7 linked regions of the Homo sapiens genome follow. The protein of the gene in region 7 purifies or fractionates together with the protein of the main gene of each other region. This does not show direct contact. Each region holds a gene or a part of one and is shown on either strand. Other genes may lie near its edges.

Evidence for each region.
Region 1: the proteins of CNBP (region 7) and DDX24 purify together in Homo sapiens (affinity purification with mass spectrometry; 2 studies listed by BioGRID and IntAct, with this or other methods). This does not show direct contact.
Region 2: the proteins of CNBP (region 7) and ZFP62 purify together in Homo sapiens (affinity purification with mass spectrometry; 2 studies listed by BioGRID and IntAct, with this or other methods). This does not show direct contact.
Region 3: the proteins of CNBP (region 7) and ZNF512 purify together in Homo sapiens (affinity purification with mass spectrometry; 2 studies listed by BioGRID and IntAct, with this or other methods). This does not show direct contact.
Region 4: the proteins of CNBP (region 7) and PPAN-P2RY11 purify together in Homo sapiens (affinity purification with mass spectrometry, with the first as the bait; 2 studies listed by BioGRID). This does not show direct contact.
Region 5: the proteins of CNBP (region 7) and RBM34 purify together in Homo sapiens (affinity purification with mass spectrometry; 2 studies listed by BioGRID and IntAct, with this or other methods). This does not show direct contact.
Region 6: the proteins of CNBP (region 7) and DDX27 purify together in Homo sapiens (affinity purification with mass spectrometry; 2 studies listed by BioGRID and IntAct, with this or other methods). This does not show direct contact.

Annotation. Positions count from the first base shown.
Region 1 is NC_000014.9:94,053,703-94,057,202, reverse strand, and holds part of DDX24 (ATP-dependent RNA helicase DDX24), read left to right. Parts: intron 1-2,018; coding exon 2,019-2,207; intron 2,208-3,500. UniProt on the Homo sapiens protein: ATP-dependent RNA helicase that plays a role in various aspects of RNA metabolism including pre-mRNA splicing and is thereby involved in different biological processes such as cell cycle regulation or innate immunity.
Region 2 is NC_000005.10:180,847,111-180,851,276, forward strand, and holds the end of ZFP62 (zinc finger protein 62 homolog), read right to left. Parts: coding exon 1,682-4,166; 3' UTR 973-1,681; coding exon of another isoform or gene 953-972; 3' UTR 501-952; downstream 1-500. UniProt on the Homo sapiens protein: May play a role in differentiating skeletal muscle.
Region 3 is NC_000002.12:27,589,542-27,593,041, reverse strand, and holds part of ZNF512 (zinc finger protein 512), read right to left. Parts: intron 1-3,500. UniProt on the Homo sapiens protein: May be involved in transcriptional regulation.
Region 4 is NC_000019.10:10,112,617-10,115,872, reverse strand, and holds the end of PPAN-P2RY11 (PPAN-P2RY11 protein), read right to left. Parts: intron 2,241-3,256; coding exon 1,135-2,240; 3' UTR 760-1,134; coding exon of another isoform or gene 744-759; 3' UTR 501-743; downstream 1-500. Other genes in the region: EIF3G (eukaryotic translation initiation factor 3 subunit G), read left to right, coding at 53-189, 288-394, 744-759; P2RY11 (P2Y purinoceptor 11), read right to left, coding at 1,135-2,240. UniProt on the Homo sapiens protein: May have a role in cell growth.
Region 5 is NC_000001.11:235,154,751-235,158,250, reverse strand, and holds part of RBM34 (RNA-binding protein 34), read left to right. Parts: exon of another isoform or gene 1-1,585; coding exon of another isoform or gene 1,586-1,656; intron 1,657-3,138; coding exon 3,139-3,370; intron 3,371-3,500.
Region 6 is NC_000020.11:49,239,916-49,243,415, reverse strand, and holds part of DDX27 (probable ATP-dependent RNA helicase DDX27), read right to left. Parts: intron 1,524-3,500; coding exon 1,429-1,523; intron 1,334-1,428; coding exon 1,210-1,333; intron 823-1,209; coding exon 735-822; intron 1-734. UniProt on the Homo sapiens protein: Probable ATP-dependent RNA helicase. Component of the nucleolar ribosomal RNA (rRNA) processing machinery that regulates 3' end formation of ribosomal 47S rRNA.
Region 7 is NC_000003.12:129,170,612-129,173,896, reverse strand, and holds part of CNBP (CCHC-type zinc finger nucleic acid binding protein), read left to right. Parts: intron 1-2,125; 5' UTR 2,126-2,139; coding exon 2,140-2,263; intron 2,264-2,358; coding exon 2,359-2,451; intron 2,452-2,613; coding exon of another isoform or gene 2,614-2,619; coding exon 2,620-2,818; intron 2,819-3,285. UniProt on the Homo sapiens protein: Single-stranded DNA-binding protein that preferentially binds to the sterol regulatory element (SRE) sequence 5'-GTGCGGTG-3', and thereby mediates transcriptional repression. Has a role as transactivator of the Myc promoter.

The sequences.
Region 1 (3,500 bases), on a different chromosome or scaffold from region 7:
GCCAGGCTTTGAATCCCCAGTCTGCTGCTTCATAGTTGGTTAGCTTTAGGCAAGTTATTTAGTACCTCTGGTTTCAGTGTCATTGTTTGTAAACTGGAAGTAACAACTAGCTACCCCATAGGGTTATCCTGAGAATTAAATTGAGCTGATGCTGATGAAGCCGGTAGCACAGTGTAAGTACTCAATAAATGGTAGCTGGTATGGCATTATCATTTTTCCTCTTTAATTCCTCTTTGTGCTTTTAAAAATCTTTTAGGCTGCTGTTTCAGAGAAACAACAAACTCACAGTGCTTTTTCCCATTCTCTCACTTCACAACAACAATCAACATAGAAGACTTCTGTAACCAAATGTGTGGGCGTTTTTCACCACATATCAAGCAGCAGCCACCAGCTGGGTGTCCTCTAATTTAGTTTCATTTTCTGATGCTGTCTTCCTGGAGATAGCCTCAGATCCCACAAGATGTCCCTCCTCCCCGCAACCAGTCGATAAGTCAGGGCCTCTGGAACTTCTGACCAACCAGCTTCAAGTTGGGGTTCTCATGACCCCCCGCTTTGGGTTCAATTAATTTGCTACAGCAGCTCTCAGAACTAAAAGAAACACATTTACCAGTTTATTATAGAGGATATTACAAAGAATATAGATGGGGAGATGTATAGGCTGAGGTACAGGGGAAGGAGCATGGAGTTGCCATGCCCCTCCTGGGTACACCACCCTCCAGGAATGTCCACATATTCAGCTTATTCAAAAGTTCTCCAAACTCTGTCCTTTAGGAATATTTATGGAGACTTCATTGGGTAAGATGATTAATTAAGCCATTGGCCTTTAGGAAGTAGTGCTGCAAGTCCCAACCTTCTAATCCTGCCTTGGCCTTTCTGGTGACCAGCCCCCATCCTGAAACTACCTGGGGGGCTATCAGCCATCAGTCAATAGTTTGTCATTAGTATACAAAAAGACATTACTTTTGAGATTCCTTTGCCAGGAAACAGGATGAAGAGCAAATACATATTTCACTGTATCACAGGTGCTAATTTTGGTTTAGCAAATCTCTATAGTCTTCCCTTTTTTGGGGAAGGAGCTGGGTCAACCTTTGTGGAGTCAAGATGAATCAAATACAGTCCCAGCCCCTAAGAAGTATTGGATCCAGCAGAGGAGGTGAGATGACCACAGCCATAATTTAAGGCAGAAGGTATTAGAAAATTACAAAATACAATGGAAGAGAGAGGTAACTTCTAGTTTGGGAGGTTGGAAAGTACTTTCTAAAAACATGCCTGGCATTTAAGGGTGAAGAGGATTTGGACATATAGAGGCATTAAAGGAAGGAGCAAAGAAATGGGCAGTGTTCAGGGGCACTTGGCTCACAGTGAGAAGAGGGTATGTGTTGGGAAAGGAATAGTTGCTGAGGCTGGAGGGGTAAGTTGAGGGCAAGTCACTAAAGGCGCTGAGTGTCAGGTTGAAGAGTTGGGCCTTTATCCTGTAAGTAAAGAAAGGCAAATCTCATTTCTAGAACTCTTATGAACAGTTCATAGTGGCTACTTAAAGTACTGTATTGAAAAGGATACCTAGATGTTATCTGGGCCCAGTGGAGAAGACTGTTGTGCTTGATTAATGGTGTGTGCCAGGGGCTCAGTGGGTGTGTTAGCAACCATGCCACATTATCTATGGATAAAATATATATAGGAGTAGAGACCGTATAACCCAGGGATTAACATGGTCTGTGGAGCTGGGCTGCTTAAATCCTGGATAAGAAGTGACTGCTGTGGTCTGGCTGCATGGTCCTGAGGACCTGAACCAGGGTCAGGGGCATGGGAGGGAAGAGCCTACACAGTGAATGGGCTAAACCTGGGAACATTTTGAATGTGGGACTAAGAGAGGAGGGCTAGATTGCTCTACAATGCTGCAGAAGTTTCTACCTGCCTGGCTGGGAGGTAGGAGGGTCTGGTTTGGGGATGTGGCCCTGAGGAGAGGACCAGTGTTTGGCAGTGGCCATGTATTGATCTCCCAGTTCTTCCTGTGGCAGGTCCCACGTACCTCGGAGATTTATGTCCACCGAAGTGGTCGAACTGCTCGAGCTACCAATGAAGGCCTCAGTCTGATGCTCATTGGGCCTGAGGATGTGATCAACTTTAAGAAGATTTACAAAACGCTCAAGAAAGATGAGGATATCCCACTGTTCCCCGTGCAGACAAAATACATGGATGTGGTCAAGGTAGAAAGCAGTTAAAACCCCAGTGCTAATGAAGGGATTGTGCTGCTCCCTTGCAGAGCACCTTGCTGTGGGACTCTGGCAGCATAACCCTTGAAAACTAAGGAATGGTTCTGCCAACAGCTGAACAAGGAGACTTGTAGAAAGGATTGAGAGCAACATACCTGGGAAAAGGGAGAAAAGGGGAGTGACTGAAGGTGGGAGGCATTTTCTCCCTGAACCATTTCTTCCTTCTCTGGCCCTGAAGTCCCCCCTCCTCACCAGACAGTGCAGTGGTCATGGCTGTCTGGATATCCTGTCAGAGGGTTGTAGACAGTGTGGTTAGTGTTTCCTGCTGAGGCAGATGCTACAGGTTTGGCACATCCCTGGAGCAGGTGCCAGTAAATTCTGTCTTTTGGGTTTTAACTCAGCAGGCATTCCCCAGGTAGGTGCCGCTTACCATGGGACACTGTATTAGTGACCAAAGTGGGGTGGGTTCTCCTTCCCAGAGGTTTGCCAGCTGTGAATAAAGTTCAGGTACAGTGGAGCAGTATGGAATTACTGGGCATATGGTTACATTGGGAGGAGAAGAGGTTCTATCCCAGCTTCCTGCTGGCAAAGATGTGGAAGGGTACAGAGGAGGTGGAATTCCAGGAATTGAGGGAGCAAAACCATGGCACAGTTCAAGGAATGTTGGCTTCTCTGGCTCAAAAGGAATATTAGCTGTGTGGGGAAATAGGGTGGAGATAAGGATGGAAAAGTGGAAATCATAGAGAATTCCCATTAGTAAGGAGGATTAGGAGCCACCCAGGCTTCCCTTGGTTTCTTTCCCCACATCACAAGATCCTTCTCATTTTGCCACTGCACTGTAACCCCAAAACCCTCTAGAGGGAGAGTTGAAATGTTTTATCTTAGCTCAGCTGTGGAAGCAAGCTGTGGCATCTGCGTAAAGACTTCACTTTGGTTACCTATAGGTTGGCAGTCAAACCAGTAAGGGTTTTCAAAGGATGTGGCTGTTCAGGTTGATTGTTGGGAAAGCTGGCAGTTGTGTTTAGATGTGTACACACAGACGGGTAATGGTTGCCCACTGGACTTTTATCAGGAAGCAATAAATGCATTTCAACAGGAACTGAACTGCATCTCACCACTGATCTCAAGAGCTTTTTATTTATTTATTTTTAATTTTTAATTTTTAATTTTTTTTTGAGACGGAGCTTTGCTCATGTTGCCCAGACTGGAGTGCAGTGGCACAATCTTGGCTCACCACAACCTTCGCCTCCCGGGTTCAAGTGATTCTCCTGCCTCAGCCTCCCAAGT
Region 2 (4,166 bases), on a different chromosome or scaffold from region 7:
GAGATGGGAAACTACATGGCTGAGATTGTTCTCTTGTAAAGACAATGGGTTTTGAAACCAGATACCAGACTTCAAATTCAGCCTTTGCTGATTGGCCCACTCACAGTATTCTCAGACAGGTTACTCAATTCTCAGAAGAGTCTATTTTTACCCTTTGAGTTACCTAGTTAACAGCTTCATACACAGCAGTAGTTTATGTTCAATTCTACATGTTCCTGACAGAGCTGTGTGTGGTGACTGATCACTCACACAACCTACCTGCTCCCGAGTTAGGATCTGGCCCAGTAACGACGATCACATGGCTCCACTGTGGTCCCCTCAAAATCTATCCTGTGCTCCTCCTAGGGAGGCACCTTCTAACTTCTGGTGAAACCAGCTGAGCTGCTAGCCCTGTGGGATGAGTCTACTACCCTCTCTGGTTTGGATCTGGTATAACTTACCCAACAAAGATCTGGCACACAAATGGCTCTTGGGTATCCTCCATCTAAACTCACAGCCCGTTTTGATTTAAGGAATTTCTTTATTGGAATTCCACTTTACCTCGCCACAAGGAGCTGGCTTTCATGACAAAGAGAGAGTGAGCCCTGAACAAAGTATTCGTTAACATTTTACAACAGACAACATATACATGTCCTGCATGACATCTTTACAATAACACATTCCAAAAACAATCAAACATTTAACAGGATTATTAAGAAACATTAATTTCCTTCTCTCTAGATGACTGGTACTTTAGCTTTTTAGCTTCTGCAATAAAATGCGTTCCTTCTCAGCATTTCTATTCATAGGAATCCCTGAATCACTTCTGTCATGTAAGGTGCGAATTCATGTTGACGGTGTGTTCCATTAGTTACTGAATGTGTCAAAATCCTCTCCACGGTAGAACCTTTTATTGTAGCATAATGTGTGAATACCACTTCCAGGTTATCCCTCATCACAAATTCATCATTCATTATGGGAGTTCATCTGAAACTTTAAAAAAGTTTCATCCATTCAACTAATGTATCACAATAGTACGTTCATCAATTTGCATTTTTTATGAGTGACTCTCTCCTATCTCCTGTTAGACTTGTAAGTCTATGCTTTCTACTTTTCCTAAAAGGAAATCCAAATTTTGTTTCAGAAGTCATCATCACTGCCCCCTCCCAAACCAATTACATCAAGTTTATACTTAAAGACCACTAATATTAAATAAATTTATATTCCCTGAAACCTATCCTCCCTGAATTTGCCTGTTGGAGGCCCTTAGTTTTCCCACTGACCAATGTGTAATTGGGATTCAAAGCTATACCTGAATTTCCTACATTTCTAGTAACAGAATTTACCAAACATGAACTTTCTGATGGTGATTACGTAACTTCTAATTGAAGCCCTTTCCTCATCTGTGTTTTATGTCCAGAAATGTCTACTGATTTTGAAGATTTGCTTCACATTCCATCACTCAGATCTAAGTTTTTCTCTCAAGTATGGACTGTTTTATATCCTGTAAGAGCTGAACTACCTTGACACTGGAGCCTTTCTTGCTTGCTATGATTGAAAATCACATAGAAAGGATTCCTCATAATCCTCTAGGATGGTTTCATTTACACTGTGTAAATTACAAGCCATGACCCCCTACATTCTTACATTCATAAGGTATTTCTTCCATTTGAGTTCGGAGAGACTTGGTAAGCTCTGCCTGCTACAGAGGCATCCTCATCCTGCCCCCATCCAGGGCATTCCCTCCCTCATAGGTTCTCTTCTGGGATGTGCCACTATAACTTCCCACATATATCACATTTAAAGATTCCTCTCCAGTATGGGTTCTTTTATGCTTGGTGAGATTTGATCTGATATTAAAAGCCTTACCACACTCATTACATCGGTATGGCTTCTTTCCAGTGTGGATCCTTTTGTGCTGGTCAAGGACTGATCTATAATTGAAGGATTTCCCACACTCACAATTATAGGGCTGCTTCCCCTGGTGGACACTTTTATGATTGATAAGACTTGAGTGTGAGATGTATGCCTTCCCACACTCATCACATTCATAGGGTTTCTCACCTGTGTGGATCCTTTTATGCACTGTGAGGCCTGAGCTGTTCCTGAAGGCCTTCCCACACCTATCACACACATAGGGTTTCTCCCCTGTGTGGATCCTCTTGTGCTGAGAAAGGAGAGAGCTGTAACTGAAAGATTTCCCACACTCAACACACTTGAAGGGTTTCTCCCCAAGATGGACTCTTTTATGGCTTATAAGAGTTCTGCTTGAGAAAAAAGCTTTTCCACATTCATCACATGTATGGGGTGTCCTGCCAGGGTGGGTACTCTTATGGTTAATAAGGCTTGAGTGTGAGATGTAGGCTTTTCCACACACATCACATTCATAGGGCCTCTCCCCAGTATGGATTCTTTTATGAACTTTAAGGCTTGAGTTGTTTCTGAAGACCTTCTCACACCTGTCACATTCATAGGGTTTCTCTCTAGTGTGGACCCTTCTGTGCTGAGAAAGGAGCGATGTGTAATTAAAAGATTTCTCACACACATCACATTTGTAGGGCTTCTCCCCAAGATGAACTTTTTTGTGGTTTGTAAGGGTTCGGTATGTGATGAAGGCCTTCTCACACTCGTCACACTTAAAGGGCTTCTCCCCAGGGTGTACACTTTTATGATTTATAAGGCTCGAGAGAGAGATGTATGCTTTCCCACATTCTTCACATTTGTAAGGTCGTTCCCCAGTGTGGATTCGTTTATGTACTTTAAGGCCAGAATTATTTCTGAAAGCTTTACCACACTCATCACACCCAAAGGGTTTTTCCCTGGTATGAATCCTTTTATGCTGTTCAAGGGCAGAGCTGTAGTTGAAGGATTTCTCACAATAGCTACATTTATAGGGCTTCTCCCCAAGGTGGATTCCTTTGTGATTTTTAAGGCTAGAGCGTGAGATATAGGCTTTCCCACACACATCACACTTATATGGTTTTTCCCCAGTATGGAGCCTCCTGTGGACTTTGAGGCCTGCATTGTTTCTGAACGTTTTCCCACACACATCACATACATAAGGTCTCTCTCCGGTATGAATAGTTCTGTGTTGAAGAAGTAGTGAGTTATAACTAAAGGATTTCCCACACTCCTTACATTCATGGGCTTTCTTCCCAGGGTGAATGCTTTTATGGACTGCGAGGCCTGAGCTATAGCTGAATGCTTTGCCACAGACATCACACTTGTAAGGTTTCTCTCCTGTGTGGATCCTTTTATGCACTATGAGGCCTGAGCTGTTCCTGAAAGCCTTCCCACATTCATCACATTCATAAGGTTTCTCTCCAGTGTGGATGACTTTATGCTGAATGAGAAGAGAGCTATAATTAAAAGATTTCTCACACTCATCACATTTATAGGGTTTATCTCCAAAGTGGATGCTTTTATGGTTGAGAAGTGTTCTACAAGTAATGAAGGCCTTCCCACACTCATCACATTCGTAAGGTTTCTCACCTGTGTGGATCCTTTTATGGACCCTAAGGCCAGAGCTGTTACTGAAGGTTTTCCCACAGATGTCGCATTCATAGGGCTTCTCCCCCGTGTGGATCCTTTTGTGGACTCTGAGCCCAGAGCTGTTCCTGAAGGCCTTCCCACACTCACCACATTCATAGGGCTTCTCCCCAGTGTGGATCCTTTTATGCTGGTCCAGAACAGAGCTATAATTGAAGGATTTTCCACATTCATCACATTTACAGTTCTTCTCCCCAGAATGGGTGCTTTTGTGGTTTATAAGGCTGGAGTAGGACATGTAGGCTTTCCCACATTCCTCACACTTGTACGGCTTCTCCCCAGTGTGGATCCGTTTGTGGACCCGAAGGCTCGAGCTGCTCCGGAAAGTCCCTCCACAGTCATCACATTCATAGCGCTTTTCCCCAGTGTGCATAATTTTATGTTGAACAAGGCGGGAATTATATTTGAAGGATTTCCCACATTCATCACATTTATGTAATTTCTTAACAGCATTGGTTTTCTGCTGTAGACTAGGGTAGGAGGTTCCATTAATGTTCTCCACACGTTTGCCTTGCTCACTGCCTCTCTGTCCTATAGGCATAGTCTGGTGTGTGATATGCTGTGGGCTCAGATGCAAGCTCTTCTCAGATGCCTCACCTTCCTGTTCTGTCTTTATATTTGCTGTACTCTTGGCTTTG
Region 3 (3,500 bases), on a different chromosome or scaffold from region 7:
GAGGGGAGACATGAGGGAGTGAAGAGAGGAAAAAAAGAAAAAGAATATAAATGTATCAGCCAGGCGTGGTGGCTCACGCCTGTAATCCCAGCACTTTGGGAGGCTGAGGCAGGTGGATCACCTGAGGTCAGGAGTTCACGACCAGCTTGACCAACATGGAGAAACCCCGTCACTACTAAAAATACAAAATTAGCTGGGCATGGTGGCACATGCCTATAATCCCAGCTACTCAGTAGGCTGAAGCAGAAGAATCGCTTGCACCTGGGAGGCAGAGGTTGTGGTGAGCCAAGATCGCGCCATTTGCACTCCAGCCTGGGCAACAAGAGCGAAACTCTGTCTCAAACAAAAAAAAAAAAAAAAAAAAAAAAAAAAAAGGTAAACATGGTAAATTATATGGGTATACTTTAACTCAATAAAAAATAAACTAGGCCAGGCATGGTGGCTCACACCTGTAATCCCAGCACTTTGGGAGGCCAAGGCAGGCAGATCACTTGAGGTCAGGAGTTGGAGACCAGCCTGGCCAATATTGTGAAACCCCACCTCTACTAAAATACAAAAATTAGCTGGGTGTGGTAGCGGGTGCCTGTAGTCCCAGCTACTTGGGAGGCTGAGACAGGAGAATCACTTGAATCTGGGAGGTGGAGGATGCAGTGAGCCGAGATCATGCCACTGCACTCCAGCTGCCCTGGGCTACAGAGCGAGACTCCATCTCAAAAAAAAAATAAAAATAAATAAATAAATAAAAAAACTAAGCTGGGTGCAATGGCTCAAGCCTGTAATCCCAGCACTTTAGGAGGCTGAGGCAGGCAGATCCCTTGAGCCCAGGAATTCAAGAACAGCCTGGGCAACATGGCAAAATCCTACCTCTATTAAAAATACAAAAAATTAGCCAGGTGTGGTGGTGTGCACCTGTAGTCCCAGCTACTCAGCAGGCTGAAGTGGGAGAATCACCTGAGCCCAGGAGGATGAGGCTGCAGTGAGCAGAGGTTGCGCCACTGCATTCCAGCCTGGGCAACGGGAGTTAGGCTCTGTCTCAAAAAAATTGTTTAAATAAATAAGAAACTATTCAAAGCCAAAGATTTTGTTTTAAACTAGAAAGCTTCAGAAAAGTGACATATTACATTACAGGAAATGATTTAAATGACCATGGGTTTCTCAACAGAAACCAAGAATGCCACAAGGCAGTACAGTATCTTTAAAATCGAACCAGTGTAATGGCTCACATTTGTAATCCCAGTACTTTGGGAGGCCAAGGCAGGGGGACTGAGCCCATGAGTTCAAGACCAGCCTGGGCAACATAGCAAGACCTTGTCTCTACAAAAAATAATTTTAAGGCTGGGCGCGGTGACTCGCGCCTGTAATCCCGACACTTTGGGAGGCCGAGGTGGGCAGATCACAAGGGCAAGAGATCAAGACCATCCTGGCCAACATGGTGAAACCCCATCTCTACTAAAAATACAAAAGCTGGGCGTGGTAGCATGCGCCTGTAGTCCCAGCTACTCGGGAGGCTGAGGCAGGAGAAATGCTTGAACCCGGGAGGCGGAGGTTGCAGTGAGCCAAGATACACCACTGTGCTCCAGCCTGGTGACAGAGCGAGACTCTGTCTCAAAATAATAATAATAATAATTTTAAGAACTTAATTGTACATTTTTAAATAACTAAAAGAGTGTAATTGGATTGTCTATAACACAAAGGATAAATGCTTGAGGGGATGGATATCCCATTCCCCATGATGTGATTTCACATTGTATGCCTGTATCAAAACATCTCATGTACCACATAAATATATATCCTTACTATGTACCCACAAAAATAAAAATAAAAAAATTTTAAAGCAATTATCCAGGTGTGGTGCCATGCAACTATAGTCCCAGCTACTTGGGAGGCTAAAGTGAGAGGATCCCTTGAGCTGAGGAATTTGAGGCTTCAGTGAGCTATGACCGCACCACTGCGCTTCAGCCTTGGCAACAGAGTGAGACCCTGTCTCTAAAAAGAAAAAAGAAAAGGAAAAAGAAATATCTTTAAAATTTTGAGAGAAAAAATTTGTCAACTCAGAATTCTATATTCAGTGAAAATATCCTAAGAAATAAAACTAAGAGAATTCATTGTAAGCAGACCTGCTCCATATGAAATGCTAAAACAAATGATTCCAGCTGAAGAAAAATAATACCAGAGAGAAACTTGGATTTTTAAGAATGAAGAAAGAGCAACAGAAATGGTAAACAGGCCGGGGTAGATGGCTCACACCTCTGTAATCTCAGCTACTTGGGAGGCTGAGGTGGGAGGATCACTTCAGCCCAGCAAGCAATGAATGTGCCACCAACTCCAGCCTGGGCAACAGAGCAAGACACTGTCTCTTAAAAAAACAAGAGTAGGGGCAGACACTAAGCATTCAAATAATCCAAAAGAAGAAACACAGGAACAAAAAACAATGGATAAACAGAGAACAAAAAATAAAAGGGCAGACCTATCCAACCATATCAATAATTAATTTAAATGTTTACAGTCTAAACACTCCAGTTAAAAGTCAGCAAATGACAGAGTAAAATAAAAAGTGATACCCTACTACATGCTACCTACAAGAAGCACACTCTAAAATATAAAGACATCTATAGATTGAAAATAAACAGATGAAAAAATTGTATCATACAATCAGCAAACATAAGGCTGGAATGACTATTTTAATATCAGATAAAACAGACTTCAAGACAAAGAGTACTGCCAGAGATAAAAAGAGACACTTCATAATGACAAAAGTGTCAAATCATTGGGAAGGCATAATTACCCACTGTATGTGCCTAATAATAGAGCCTCAAAATACACAAAGCGAAAACTGACAAAATTAAAGGGAAAAATAGACAATTCCACAATCTTAGCAGAAAATTTAAGACCTCCCCCTTTCAGCAACTGATAGAACTAGATAAAAATTCAGTAAAAGACATAAATGATCTGAACTGCACTATTAGCCACCTTGCTCTAGTTAACATTTACACAACACTACATCTAACAACTGCAGGATATATATTCTTTTCAAGTGCACATTATGCATTCATTAAGCTAGATCTTACGCTGGGCCATCAACTTTAACTTTTATTAAAAGGATGAGAATTACACAGTGTATTCTCTGACCACATTGGTATCAACTTAGGAGTCAATAATAGGAAGATATCTAAAAACAAAAAACACAAAAAATCCAAATATCTGCAAATTAAATAATCTACTTCTAAATAATTCATAGGTCCAAAATGAAATCACAAATGAAATTTGAAAATATTTTGCACTGAAAAACAACAAAAATATGCATATCAACATTTGTAGGATGCAACTAAAGCAATACTTAGAAACTTAAAGCTTTAAATGCTTATACTAGAAACGATCTAAAATCAATGACTTAAGATTTCATCTTAAGATACCTTAAAAGGAAAAGCAAAGTAAACCAAAGAAAAGGTAAGGTAAGAGGAGAAACCCATGAACTAGAAAACAGACAATAGGGGAAATGT
Region 4 (3,256 bases), on a different chromosome or scaffold from region 7:
GAGGGCTGGGCAGTGTCCTCCCCCTCACAGCCACCTCCCCTCTCCCACACAGCCGACGACAACGCCACCATCCGTGTCACCAACTTGTCAGAGGACACGCGTGAGACCGACCTGCAGGAGCTCTTCCGGCCTTTCGGCTCCATCTCCCGCATCTACCTGGCTAAGGACAAGACCACTGGCCAATCCAAGGTGGGCAGGCAGGCAGGCACGGTGGGGCTGTGTGAGGGTCACTTGTCCTAGGGTCGCCTGTCCTAGCTCGTGCCCGACCCCATCCCGCCCCTCCACAGGGCTTTGCCTTCATCAGCTTCCACCGCCGCGAGGATGCTGCGCGTGCCATTGCCGGGGTGTCCGGCTTTGGCTACGACCACCTCATCCTCAACGTCGAGTGGGCCAAGTAAGACTCCATCCCTGCCCCAGCCCCTGCTCCCTGCCTTGTCCCAGCACCTTCACGGAGTGTTGGGCCAACCAATAGCCCTGAGCCAATTTAACAGTCCCCCGGCTGGTTTTGAGGGGACAGTCCTTTATTGTTTTTTTCCAAAACCGGGCAGAGGGGTGGCAGCTCTTGTGCCTGGGGTCCCTGCCAGTCCGTGGACCAGGCCTGGAGACTGGCCATCTGGCTCCGTGCCCGCTTCGTCCTCACATTACCCCGTCCTCTGCCCACCCACCCCCAAGATGCCACTTGGGTGTCTGGGGTCTTGGGGTGCCCCCAGAAGTCTTATACCTGCCACCCTCCCCTACCCCAGGCCGTCCACCAACTAAGCCAGCTGCCACTGTGTACTCGGTCCGGGACCCTTGGCGACAGAAGACAGCCTCCGAGAGCGCGGGCTCCAAGGGCAATAAAGCAGCTCCACTCTCTCTACTTGGTTCTTTTTGTTCTTGCGTCTCCAGTCCTGTGGCGGGGGCCAGTGCCTCCCCTCCTCTGGGCGTGGTCTGGTCCCTGACCCTGCAGGGAGCCCTGTGGCCAGCGCTGTGGGTGGGAAAGGCGACTGCTCCTGCCTGGGCTGCAGCTGGGCCTGACCTGGCTGCAAGCACAGGTGTTGCTTTTTGGGGGAAGGGATGTGTCGGGGCTCGGGCCCTGCCCTCAGGGTTCTCCAGCAACACCTAGGGTGAGGAGGCAGCTTCCGCTAGGCCACATCATTGGCTCAGCTCACGGGACTGGGGCTCTGACGGTTTAGGGGCGGCTGTGGCATTGAGGGGCAGGGCTTGGCCAGTGCTCTTGGCGTCCTCTGGGTTCCAGCTGTCCCTGTAGCCGGGGCAGTGTCGGCAGCAGCAGCCCAGGCTGGGCACTGCGGCCATGTAGAGTAGAGGGTGGACACAGAAGGCCAGGGGCATGAGGCCCCGCATCACCTGGTAGCCCACGTAGGGCCCCAGCTCCAGGGCTGCTGTGGCCTGGGCTATGTCTGCAAAGCTCGGGCAGCGGGTGCTCCAGCGCCGCCGAGCATCCACGTTGAGCACCCGCATGATGTGGTAGGGCACATAGGAGCTGGCGTAGAGGGCCACACCACTGGCCACCAACGCTGCCACACGCAGCTTCTCGGCCACAGTCATGCCTGGGCTGCGTAGCACGGCCCGCCCGAGGGCGCCGTAGGCTGCCAGCGTGAGCAGCAGCGGCAGGCCGCAGCCCAACCCCGCCAGCACCAGGCTATACGCTCTGTAGGCCGCCAGCCCGTGGTCTGCTGTCCCCAGACACTTGATGCAGGCCTCGGGCCTGGCCACGCTGCAGTTGCCCGCCCCCTGCTGCGGCCTCTTCAGGTGGGAGAAGCTGAGTGTGGGCATGGCCAGCAGGGCGGCCAGGACCCAGCCGGCAGCGCTCACGGCCCAGGCGTGCTTGGGTCGCAGGTGGCTTCGGGCGAAGAAGGGGTGCACGATGCCCAGGTAGCGGTTGAGGCTGATGCAGGTGATGAAGATGACGCTGCCCAGCAGGTTGCAGGTGAAGAGGAAGCGCTCCAGGCGGCACGCGGCCTCCCCATAGCGCCAGTGCTTGGGGGGATAGAGGTAGGCGGCCAGCGGGGGCAGCGTCAGGGCGCAGAGCAGGTCGCTGACTGCCAGCTGGACAGAGAAGACCACGGCGGGGTGCCATGGGCGCTGCTTCCGGATGCTGAAGCGGTACAGGGCCAGGCCATTGCTGGCCACGGCCACCAGGAACTCAACCACCAGTATGGGCCACAGGAAGTCCCCCTGGAACCCACTGAGTTTGTCGTCGGCAGCTGCCAAGAAGTTGGCAGGGCAGGACTTGGCACCTGTGGGCAGAAGGTGTCACCAGCTGAGCCCTATTCCCCCATAAGGCGGCTCCTGCTACCCCAAGAGCCCACGTCTGCCATGGCGTGGATCCCTGGACACGAGTTCTTTCCCCTCCCTGGAGGGGGACCGGGCTCCACTCCTTTATGTGGACAGGATTGAGGCTCAGAGCCAGGGTTATGCATTGGGCCCCAATGGACCAGCTTAGGCGGGCCAGGCAGTCTTGGAGCTCAAGGTCCACTGGTAACACAGACAGCGGCCACCCTACTCCCCCACCACACCTGGCCCCACTAGAGGCCTCCTCCCCAAAGTCCAGCCCCAGCAAGGCCTGCCGGCTCCACTTCAGATCTGTGCCGTCCAAAGCCCCGTGGGGGTCCAGCCCCCACTCTGCCCTGACCTTGGCACCCGCCGCCGCCCAAAGCCTCTTCTCCCCGTGGCCACCAGAGAGCACCCGCGAGCGCTGGAGTCCTGCCCCATCCTTTTGCTTCCAGGTGCTCACACTTGGCCAGGGAGTTGCCGCCAAAAAGCCAGACTCACCCCACAAGGTCCCCCAAGAGCGCTCCCGCCCGCCATACCCCCCAGTGCCACCCTCTGTGCTCCGCGACTCACTCCCTCGCACCAGCCCACCCAGGCTTCCTGGCTGCTCTTGCAGACTTGTGCCTTGGTACCTTCGCACCCAGACTTTTTTTTTTGAGACAGAGTCTCACTCTCATCACCCAGGCTGGAGTGCAATGATGTGACTTCAGCTCACTGCAACCTCTGCCTCCCGGGTTCAAGTGATTCTCCTGCCTCAGCTTCCTGAGTATTTGGGACTACAGGCACCCACCACCACGCCTGGTTTAATTTTAAATTTTGCATTTTTAGTAGAGATGGGGTTTCCCCATGTTGGCCAAGAGGTCTCGAATTCCTGACCTCAGATCTGCCCGCCTCAGCCTCCCAAAGTGCTGAGATTACAAGTGTGAGCCACCGTGCCCAGCCACACCCAGACATTCTTGAGGCTCCTCTTCCCACGTCCGTG
Region 5 (3,500 bases), on a different chromosome or scaffold from region 7:
TAGAGATGGGGTTTCACCATGTTGGCCAGGCTGGCCTTGAACTCCTGACCTCAGGTGATCCACCCGCCTTGGCCTCCCAAAGTGCTGGGATTACAGGCGTGAGCCACCGCGCCTGGCCCTTATCCCTCTTTCTGCTAATATAGACGTGCTCACGATTCTAATCTTTAAAAAGGACATTCCCCCTAACCGCCAAAAAAAAAAACCCATGTAATTGCATGTCTCTGTTTGCTACCATTCCCACAGTCCTTCCCTTCAGTCTAGCTTTTAAGAAAAGTAGTCTGTTCTTGTACTCTCTCCCTTCTCTTGATCTGTTCACCCTTCCACGCACTTGGATTCTGGTGGTGGTGGGTTTTATTCTCCGTCCTGACTGTGCCACTGAAGCAGTGCCCACTGAGGCCACCCTGACCTCTCATATGTAATGGGCAGTGCAGCTTTTGTCTTATGAGTCCTCTGTTACCTTTCACGTGGCTGCTTTTCTTGTTGAAGCTACCGGATTCTCTGAGAGAAATCTCTTCTGATTGTCCTCTTGCCAATTCTTTCTTAGTGTTACTGTGGTATCTTTTCCTCTGACTACTCTTTAAATGTGCATTTCCCTCAGGGGTCTCATTCTTGGTCATGTTCTTGTGACCCTTTGTCACCCTTTGTTGGGGGCAGTATCTCTTGTGCCCACCGTGATCTCTCTCCTGATCTCCAGACATGTATGTTTGTTTGCCTCCTGGCATTTGCACCTCTTTATTCCATATGTACCACCAGGTAAGAATGCTCCACTGGGAGCTCATCATTCTCATCAGTCCTGTTCCTTGGCATGAGCGCTACCACTAGCCTTCTAGTTGCCTAAGTTAGTGGCCCGAGAGTCATCCTGTCTTCTTTCCTCTCCTTGCTTAGCTAATCAGTTGCCGAGTCCTGATGATGCTGTTTTTTAATTATCTCTTTAATCTGCCTTTTCGTCTTCACCTCCTTCCCTGCTCTGGTCAGTCTGGTCAGTCTTCTCAGATACACACTGTTGTAACCATCTCCTTACTGGTCTCCCTTCTCCAACCTTATCCTCTTTCTAATTATCTTCCACTCTTCTGCCCAGATGATCTTTTTTAGATGCTCTCAAAGTCTTCAGTGTCTCCTCATCTTCAGTAGGATAAAATCTAAGCACTTTCGTGTAACACTGAAGGTCTCTCCTGACCTGGTTCCCACCTTACTGTACTGTCTCGTTTCCTTTCACACCTGCTAGGTACTTTATATACTGTAGTGAGCAAAACACTAGACATGGACCCTGTCCTCAGGGGAGGAGTAATAGCAGTCAGCTTTTATTGGACTATGTGCCAGACACTGATTTCCTCCTCTGAGAAGCCTTTCTCGTTTATGTTTGCATACCATGTATTATAGCTGTTACCATTTTATTGTGAACTTGGTCTGTCTCTTCACTGCACTGTTGGAGGCCTTTGATTGTTTCTTTATCTTTGTATCCTCAGAGCCTAGAACTGAGTAGGAACCCGGTAAGTATTTGCTGATGAGTGAGTCATTTTTATGATTCTTATTAGCTCTTCTCTTCCCTCACTCCTTAATATCCTTTAGTTCTCCTTTCAGATTGATGCTCAGACCTTGCTTATCCATATCCAGCAATACTTTATATTGTATTTACCGTTTCACAATTTACTTTTGGTAAGAGTCCTTTAAATATTACAGAAGTATTAGAAGTAGGGAATCTGGTTTTTCCTATCAGCCATATTGCTTGTACAGAGTAAGTACTCTGCTGCCATATTAACCTTTTTAGACTCTCAGGGAGTGTGATAGTGCCCCTAAAGGTCTAGAGTAGAAAATGAAATCAGGCATTGATAGAGTGTAAACTAAATCTCCAAGAGCTTTAAGTGAATCAGCTTTTGTATAGATGAACTTGCTGCTGCTGTTGCATGGCAGATTTAACGTGTTCAAAAATTGAGCTTCACTTATTCTTGCCAGGTGCAGTGGTTCACGCCTGTAACCCTAGCACTTTGGGAGGCTGAGGTGGGCGAATGGCTTGAGCTTAGGAGTTCAAGACCAGCCTGGGCAACATAGCAAAACCCTGTCTCTACAAAAAAATATAAAAGGAGACTGGGCGCGGTGGCTCATGCCTGTAATCACAACACTTTGGGAGGCTGAGGCGGGCGGAGCAAGAGGTCAGGAGTTCGAGACCAGCCTGGCCAACACAGTGAAACCTCGTCTCTGCTAAAAAAAAAAAATTAGCTGGGCTTGGTGGCAGGTGCCTGTAATCCCAGCTACTTGGGAGGCTGAGGCAAAAGAATCGTTGTGAACCAGAGAGGCGGAGGTTGCAGTGAGCCGAGATTGCGCCACTATACTCCAGTCTGGGAGACAGAGCTAGACTCTGTCTCAAAAAAAAAAAGTATATATGTATATATATATATATATATATATATATATATATATATATATATATGTATATGTATGTATAAAAGACTGGACATGGTGGCTCACACCTTTAGTCCCAGCACTTTGGGAGGCCAAGGTGGGCAGATAACTTGAGGTCAGGAGTTCAAGACTAGCCTGGCCAACATGGTGAAACCCCGTCTTTACTAAAAATACAAAAATTAGCCTGGCATGATGGCAGCCACCTGTAATCCCAGCTACTTGGGAGGCTGTGGCAGGAAAATCGCTTGAACCCGAGAGGCAGAAGTTGCAGTGAGCCGAAATTGCACTATTGCACTCCAGCCTGGGTGACAGAGCAAAACTCCGTCTCAAAAAAAAAAAAAAAAAGCCACGTGTGGGGGCATGCGCCTGTGGTCCCAGTTACTTGGGAGGCTGAGGTGGGAGGATTGCCTGAGCCTGGGAGGTTGAGGCTGCAGTGAGCTGTGATTACGCTGCTACACTCCAGCCTGGGTGACAGAGCAAGACCCTGTCTCAAAGAAAAAAAAAAAGAGCTTAACTTTTTCTAAATCTTGAGTTAAATCATTTTTTTTCTAAAGATACTAGTCAGTTTCTAGATAGCGCTGCTCTAAAAATTTTGATATATTTGTGAGTAGTAAATCTAGGAAAATTCAGAAGACATTGGGAAATATTTCTAGTCGGGAGGGTAGGGCTGTGCTTTGTCAAATACTAGACCTAACTGGCATGACTCTTACTGCTTATTTTATTTTTTGCCTTAAAAAGGGAAAGCGCTCTAGCGAGTGCTGATTTAGAAGAAGAAATTCACCAGAAACAAGGGCAGAAAAGGAAAAATTCTCAACCTGGTGTTAAAGTAGCAGATAGAAAAATACTTGATGACACAGAAGACACAGTTGTCAGTCAAAGAAAGAAAATTCAAATCAACCAAGAAGAAGAGAGATTAAAGAATGAGAGAACTGTGTTTGTTGGGAATTTGCCTGTTACATGTAATAAGAAGGTGAGTTTGTATATGGTAAAAGTTCAGAGAAGTTAATAACTTTGTTCTTCCTGTGTTGAATAAGCATTCAATAGTAAGTCATGGATATAACTTCATTGTAAATTATTACATAAATCATCCTAATATGAAT
Region 6 (3,500 bases), on a different chromosome or scaffold from region 7:
TTAGGTATATACCACTACTTGGGAAGCTTAGTCTGCCCCTGCCCCAACCTTGGGCTGGGGAAAATGGTGTGGGACAACATATTCCTAAGAGCAAGCCAGGATTCTCTGGGGTTCTGCAGGATGGAACTTGAGATGAAAGAGTTATCACTCCCCTGAAGGAAAGCTCCATTTCTGAACCCAACAATGTACTATTTCACCTCCAAGGCAGGAACAGTGCTAACTGAACACCCCTCTCCTGTTCTCACCTTGGGATCCTCAGGTGGCTCTGAGAGGGGTGGGGGGTGGAGAACAGACAGGTACCCTTGAATTTACATAGTATAAAGCTATAGGTGTGCAAAAACTGGAAATGGGGAAGGAGGCAGAAGACTCATAGCTTCCATTAGAATACCAAGGGCTCGCCGGGCACGGTGGCTCAAGCCTGTAATCCCAGCACTTTGGGAGGCTGAGGCGGGTGGATCAGGAGGTCAAGAGATCGAGACCATCCTGGCAAACATGGTGAAACCCCATCTCTACTAAAAATACAAAAATTAGTTGGGCATGGTGGCGTGCGCCTATAGTCCCAGCTTCTTGGGAGACTGAGGCAGGAGAATTGCTTGAACCCAGGAGGTGGAGCTTGCAGTGAGCTAAGATGCACCACTGCACTCCACCCTGGGCGACAGAGCGAGACTCCGTCTCAAAAAAAAAAAAAAAAAAAAAAAGAATACCAAGGGCTCCATGATGACTTAAAATCCTACCCAGCTCGATACTGTTTCAGGGCCTTCTTGCTTGTGTTGGTGAGTTCTTCATCAAATACAGATTTCTTCCCCTGCTTTTGCTTCTTGGCTGTGCACAGAGAGAATGGGTTACATATGGTTGTCTTTGGCCCAAGCTCCTAAATCCCCTTAAGTTCAAGGTAATGATTCCAAGTTCAGTGGATACTCTGGCATCCAAAGACTATTTTCATTCTGTCCTCACCAGCTCCTCCAAGTAGCAGCTGGTGAGGCCTTAGGCTCCGGAGTCAGAAAAGCTGGCGTTCAAATCCTAGTTCTCAACAACCACAAGGTCACTGCGCCCCTTAGACCGTGGAGGGATAGCTGTACACATTGGTACATACTAATTACTCAAATAATGTGGGCTACTGTCATCATCCCTCAGATTTTCTCCCTGACCCAAAGCACAGGTTTCAGGGAAAACCTTGTACAAGCTCCTTTGGGCTCCCCATTCACCTACCAGGACCTCTCACTGGCTCCTCCTCGGGCATTGCTCGGGCCCGCTTGGCTCTGCGATTCCTCTTCGCTAGCCGTTCAGCAAACATCTGCGCCTTGAGGATTTCAAACTGAGACCTTTCCTCTGCCTAGGGGGAGTGGGGAGGTGTGAGTGTGGAACACACCAGGCCACTCTGACCCACCCCACCGAGTGGGCCCAAACTCCAAAAGGGAGGCCACTCACTGTCATCTCCCCCTTTTTTTTGGCATCCTTCATAAACTTCTTCCTTTTCTTCTTTCCTCTTAAGGCCAAGTCAAATTCCTGCAGAGCTTTGGCAACTGGGATGAGAAGAAAGCATAAGATTTCAGGGATGATTTTATCTTTTTTTAAGCTTACGATAAGAAGTGCACGTTTTCAATTGGTAAGTTAGCAGATTAAAATGAAAAGCGGCAAGCACTTCTTGGCCGAGTGCAGTAGCTCGTGCCTGTAGTCTCAGCACTTTGGGAGGCTGAGGTGGGTGGATCACCTGAGGTCAGGAGTTTGGGATCAGCATGGCCAACATGGTGAAACCCCGACTACTAAAAATACAAAAATTAGCTGGGCATGGTGGTGCACCTGTAATCCCAGCTACTTGGGAGGCTGAGGTGAGAGAATTGCTTGAACTTAGGAAGGGGAGGCTGCAGTGAGCTGAGATCGCGCCACTGCACTCCAGCCTGGGCGACAGAGCGAGACCCTGCCTCAAAAAAAAAAAAGAAAAGAAAAGCCGCAAGCACTTCTTCCACTGATTACCTCCATCTCACTAAATAACATGCTTTTTTGACTATTTCTCAATCCACTTAAGATACTCATTACAAACCTCCTGCTATGAAGGATGAAGATTTAGGTCACTTTACTACTTTACCCACCAATACAGTTATAACTCTATTTTTATCAGAAATTTAAGTTATATACACCCTTATTTTGTCCCATCAAATATAGACAGCATTTCTAAAACTGCTGGTATACCCTCTAGGAGGGAAATTTTGCAACCTCTAACAAAACTAGAAATACAAATATCCTCTGACCCACTATTCCACTTTTAGGAATTAATCCTGCAAGCCAAATATACACTTGCTTAATTGTAAAAGGGCATATGTGCAAGGTTATTCCCTACATCACTTGTTTGTAATGACAAATGATTATTTTTTGGGTTTTTTGTTGTTGGTGGTGGTGGTTTGAGTCGGGGTCTCATTCTGCCGCCCAGGCTGCAGTTCAGTGGCAGAATCTTAGCTCACTGCAACCTTGACCTCCCCAGGCTCAGGTGATCCTCCTACCTCAGCCTCTCAAGTAGTTGGACTATAGGCATGCACCACCATGTCTGGCTAATTTTTTGATTTTTAGTAGAGATGGGGTTTTGCCATGCTGCCCAGGCTGGATGACAAATGATTGTAAACAACCTCAATGTCCCTCAACAATCTACTCATATGATGGAAGAACATGAAGCCATTAAAAAAAACAAAAAGGGGGCCGAGTGCAGTGGCTCACACCTGTAATCCCAGCACTTTGGGAGGCCAAGGCAGGCGGATCACGAGGTCAGGAGATCGAGACCATCCTGGCTAACACGGTGAAATCCCATCTCTACTAAAAATACAAAAAATTACCCAGGTGCGGTGGCAGGCACCTGTAGTCCCAGCTACTCAGGAGGCTGAGGCAGGAGAATGGGGTGAACCCAGGAGGCAGAGCTTGCAGTGAGCCGAGATTGCGCCACTGCACTCCAGCCTCAGTGACAGAGCAAGACTCCGTCTGAAAACAAAAAACAAAAAGGGCAGCATATGTGGGCCTATATAAAACATATCTCTAAGCTTCAAAATTAAGTGAAAAGGCGAGGCATAGAACAATGTGAACTTATAAGTGTTTTGGGTCTTTTTTAAAGGGAGATGGAGAGGAAATCTGTATTAAATATCTCCTAACTTTTTTAAAATTATTTTTATTGTGGTTATATATACACATATAAAACAAAGGCTGCCATTTTACCCAATCTTAAGTATACAATTCAGTGGCATTACTTACATTCACAACATTGTACAACCATCACCACTATCTGTTTCCAAAACTCCTATCAGGAGGCTACTCACTGACATCATTGAAAACAGAAGCTCTGCAACCACTAATAATTTCCTATAACCCCCCTTCCCCTAGCCCTAAGTAATCTATAATCTATTTCTGTCTCTGTGAATTTGCCTAGCTAGATATCTCAGGTAAGTGAAATCAGACAGTATTTGTCCCTTTGTGTCTGGATTATTTCATTCAGCTTAAGATTTTCAAGGTTCATCCTT
Region 7 (3,285 bases):
GGGTCTTTGGCACTGTGGTTAGGTTAGCTAATTCGATTATCCACTCAAGTTTTACTCAGTTGGAAATATGTTTTTCTAGATGATGGTGCCTGTGCTTAGGTTTGAGAGGATATTTAAAATACGACTTTGTGTGCCATTGTTTGACAGTGGAATTAAGGGTAAAAATATTTAGATATGGAAGTGTGAAAATGTAGTTGCATTGTTTTCATTATGTTCTATTCCATTTCATTCTATTTTAAGAATAGCCTCAATTTATTTTTAGATTGTTACATAAGTACAAAATCCATTTGCTTTAGTGGGAGTTTTATTTTTATTTTAAAATGATAACCAATTAAAGGAGTTTATTATGAAATTCTAAGTAGCATTGTTTAAAATGTAAAATTACATTACAGAAACATTTGGAAAGGGGAGAATAAAAGAAAACAAAACACAAATGTTGCCAGTGCTGTAGGTGCTATTATTAGCGCTTTGGTGTAACTCATGGTCGTTTTCCTACTATTTTTATTATACAGTCATCTCTTGGTATCTGTGAAGTGGTTCCACAAACTCCCTCAAATACCAAAATCCTCCTATGCTCAAGTTCCCAATATAAAATAGTGTAGTACTTGCATTACAACCTTTGCACATCTTCCCATATACTTTAAAATCATCTTTAGATTACTTATAATACCTAACACAATGTAAATGCTGAATAAGTAGTTGTTAACATTGTATTGTTTAGGGAATAATGGCAAGAAAAGTCTGCATGTTCAATACAGATGCAACTTTTCCACTGAATATTTTTATTCCAAGGTTGGTTGAAGCCATGGATGCAGAACCCATGGATATAGAGGGCCTACTGTACTTGTACCATCTAGAGATAAGATTTGTATCTTGCATTTGTTTTAACATATCTGTTCTAAGGAATATCTCAGTCACCAGGCAAGTGCTGCAGTATAACTAGGTACTACGTCAGGTGCTAAGGTTAAGAGAGTATTTTCCTTCACTGACTCCTCACTCCGAGAATCCATTTTACAGCTTCATTGGTTTGGGTTATTCCAATTTTTTGATGTGAGTAAATAAATGACTTCTATTTGCCCAAAATAAAGCTTATATAGGCCTTATAACCATGCAAATGTGTCCATTAAGTTGGACTTGGAATGAGTGAATGAGTATTACTGCCAGTGTGTGTGTGTGTGTGTGTGTGTGTGTGTGTGTGTGTCTGTCTGTCTGTCTGTCTGTCTGTCTGTCTGTCTGTCTGCCTGCCTGCCTGCCTGCCTGCCTGCCTGCCTGGCTGCCTGTCTGCCTGTCTGCCTGCCTGCCTGCCTGCCTGCCTGCCTGTCTGTCTCACTTTGTCCCCTAGGCTGGAGTGCAGTGGTATGATCTCGGCTCACTGCAACCTCCACCCCCCGGGTTCAAGCGATTCTTCTGCCTCAGCCTCCTGAGTAGCTGGGATTACAGGCGCATGCCGCCATGCCCGGCTGTTTTTTGTATTTTTAGTAGAGACGGGGTTTCGCCATGTTGGCCAGACTGGTCTCAAACTCCTGACCTCAGATGGTCCACCCGCTTCAGCCTCCCAAAGTGCTAGGATTACAGGCATGAGCCACCGTGCCCAGCCACTACCAATTATTTCTCTTAATGGATTTTCATTGACCCTAACCCTGTAAATTCCATCACTTTTATCAAGGTGTATATTATAATAAGTCTATAATACCCAATCATGTAGTTGTGTGATTATTTTATTTTTTTGAGACAGAGTCTCAATGTTGCCCAGGCTGGAGTACAGTGGCACCATCTCAGCTCACTGTAAGCTCCGCCTCCTGGGTTCACACCATTCTCCTGCCTCAGCCTCCCAAGTAGCTGGGATTACAGGCGCCTGCCACTTCACCGGGCTAATTTTTTGTATTTTTCGTAGAGACGGGGTTTCACCATGTTAGCCAAGATGGTCTCGATCTCATGATCCACCCACCTCGGCCTCCCAAAGTGATGGGATTACTGGCGTGAGCCACCATGCCCAGCTATTTTTTTAACCAATATATTAGCTAGCTTTTTTCCCCAGAATAATTTTCCAAAAATACATTTAATAGAGAATAAAAGTTAAAAGAACTTTCAGTGGTTTAATGCTGTTACTTTTAATATTTCAAAGATCTGACTGCAGCCATGAGCAGCAATGAGTGCTTCAAGTGTGGACGATCTGGCCACTGGGCCCGGGAATGTCCTACTGGTGGAGGCCGTGGTCGTGGAATGAGAAGCCGTGGCAGAGGTGGTTTTACCTCGGATAGAGGTATTTTGTCGAATAGAAAAATTTGAAGTACTTCAGTATTTGTTAGTATCAAGACTGGTCTGACTAGCCGAATTCTTTGTTTTTGCTCAAAACAGGTTTCCAGTTTGTTTCCTCGTCTCTTCCAGACATTTGTTATCGCTGTGGTGAGTCTGGTCATCTTGCCAAGGATTGTGATCTTCAGGAGGATGGTAAGTATTTAACACTTCCTTTTCATACCCCTCTAGAGCTTGGAGAGGTGAGCACATGCAACTGTGTATAGCATTTCCACCTTTGAGGTTTTGTATTGTATAATTTAAAACGTAACACTTTGTAAAGGTTTTATAGTCTTGGCCTGTTTCTTTTCCTTATTGTTGAAGCCTGCTATAACTGCGGTAGAGGTGGCCACATTGCCAAGGACTGCAAGGAGCCCAAGAGAGAGCGAGAGCAATGCTGCTACAACTGTGGCAAACCAGGCCATCTGGCTCGTGACTGCGACCATGCAGATGAGCAGAAATGCTATTCTTGTGGAGAATTCGGACACATTCAAAAAGACTGCACCAAAGTGAAGTGCTATAGGTAAGGTGTCAGAATGTTGTTAGAAGAAAACTCATTGCAGAGATTCTTCCAGAGATGAATTAGCTATAAATGGAAGGGCCTTAGTAAATTCAGTGAAACTTAGCTGTGACCAGATAAGACCAATTTTCAGCATATGTAACTGGCAGTCTATCTGTATATAATTCTGTATTCTGCCCTGATATCCTGTGGCTTATGGTACCTGGGCAGTTTTCACAACTGGACTTTTTTAATATATAAAAGTAAGAGTGTTATAATTTGAAACTTCCAGAGACTTCATAGAAAGCTCTGTAATATACATAAATCTTTTATCATGTAACCAGAAATCTTTGCCTGTTTGTGACATGTAAGTGTATAATTTGATAAATGTTGTTGTGTACATATCTGTGAAACCTTAGGGGTTAATTGCATGAAAACAAAGATCAGGCGTTTTGTTCTGCATGGTGACTGTTGCTTTGGTAGACAGTTTT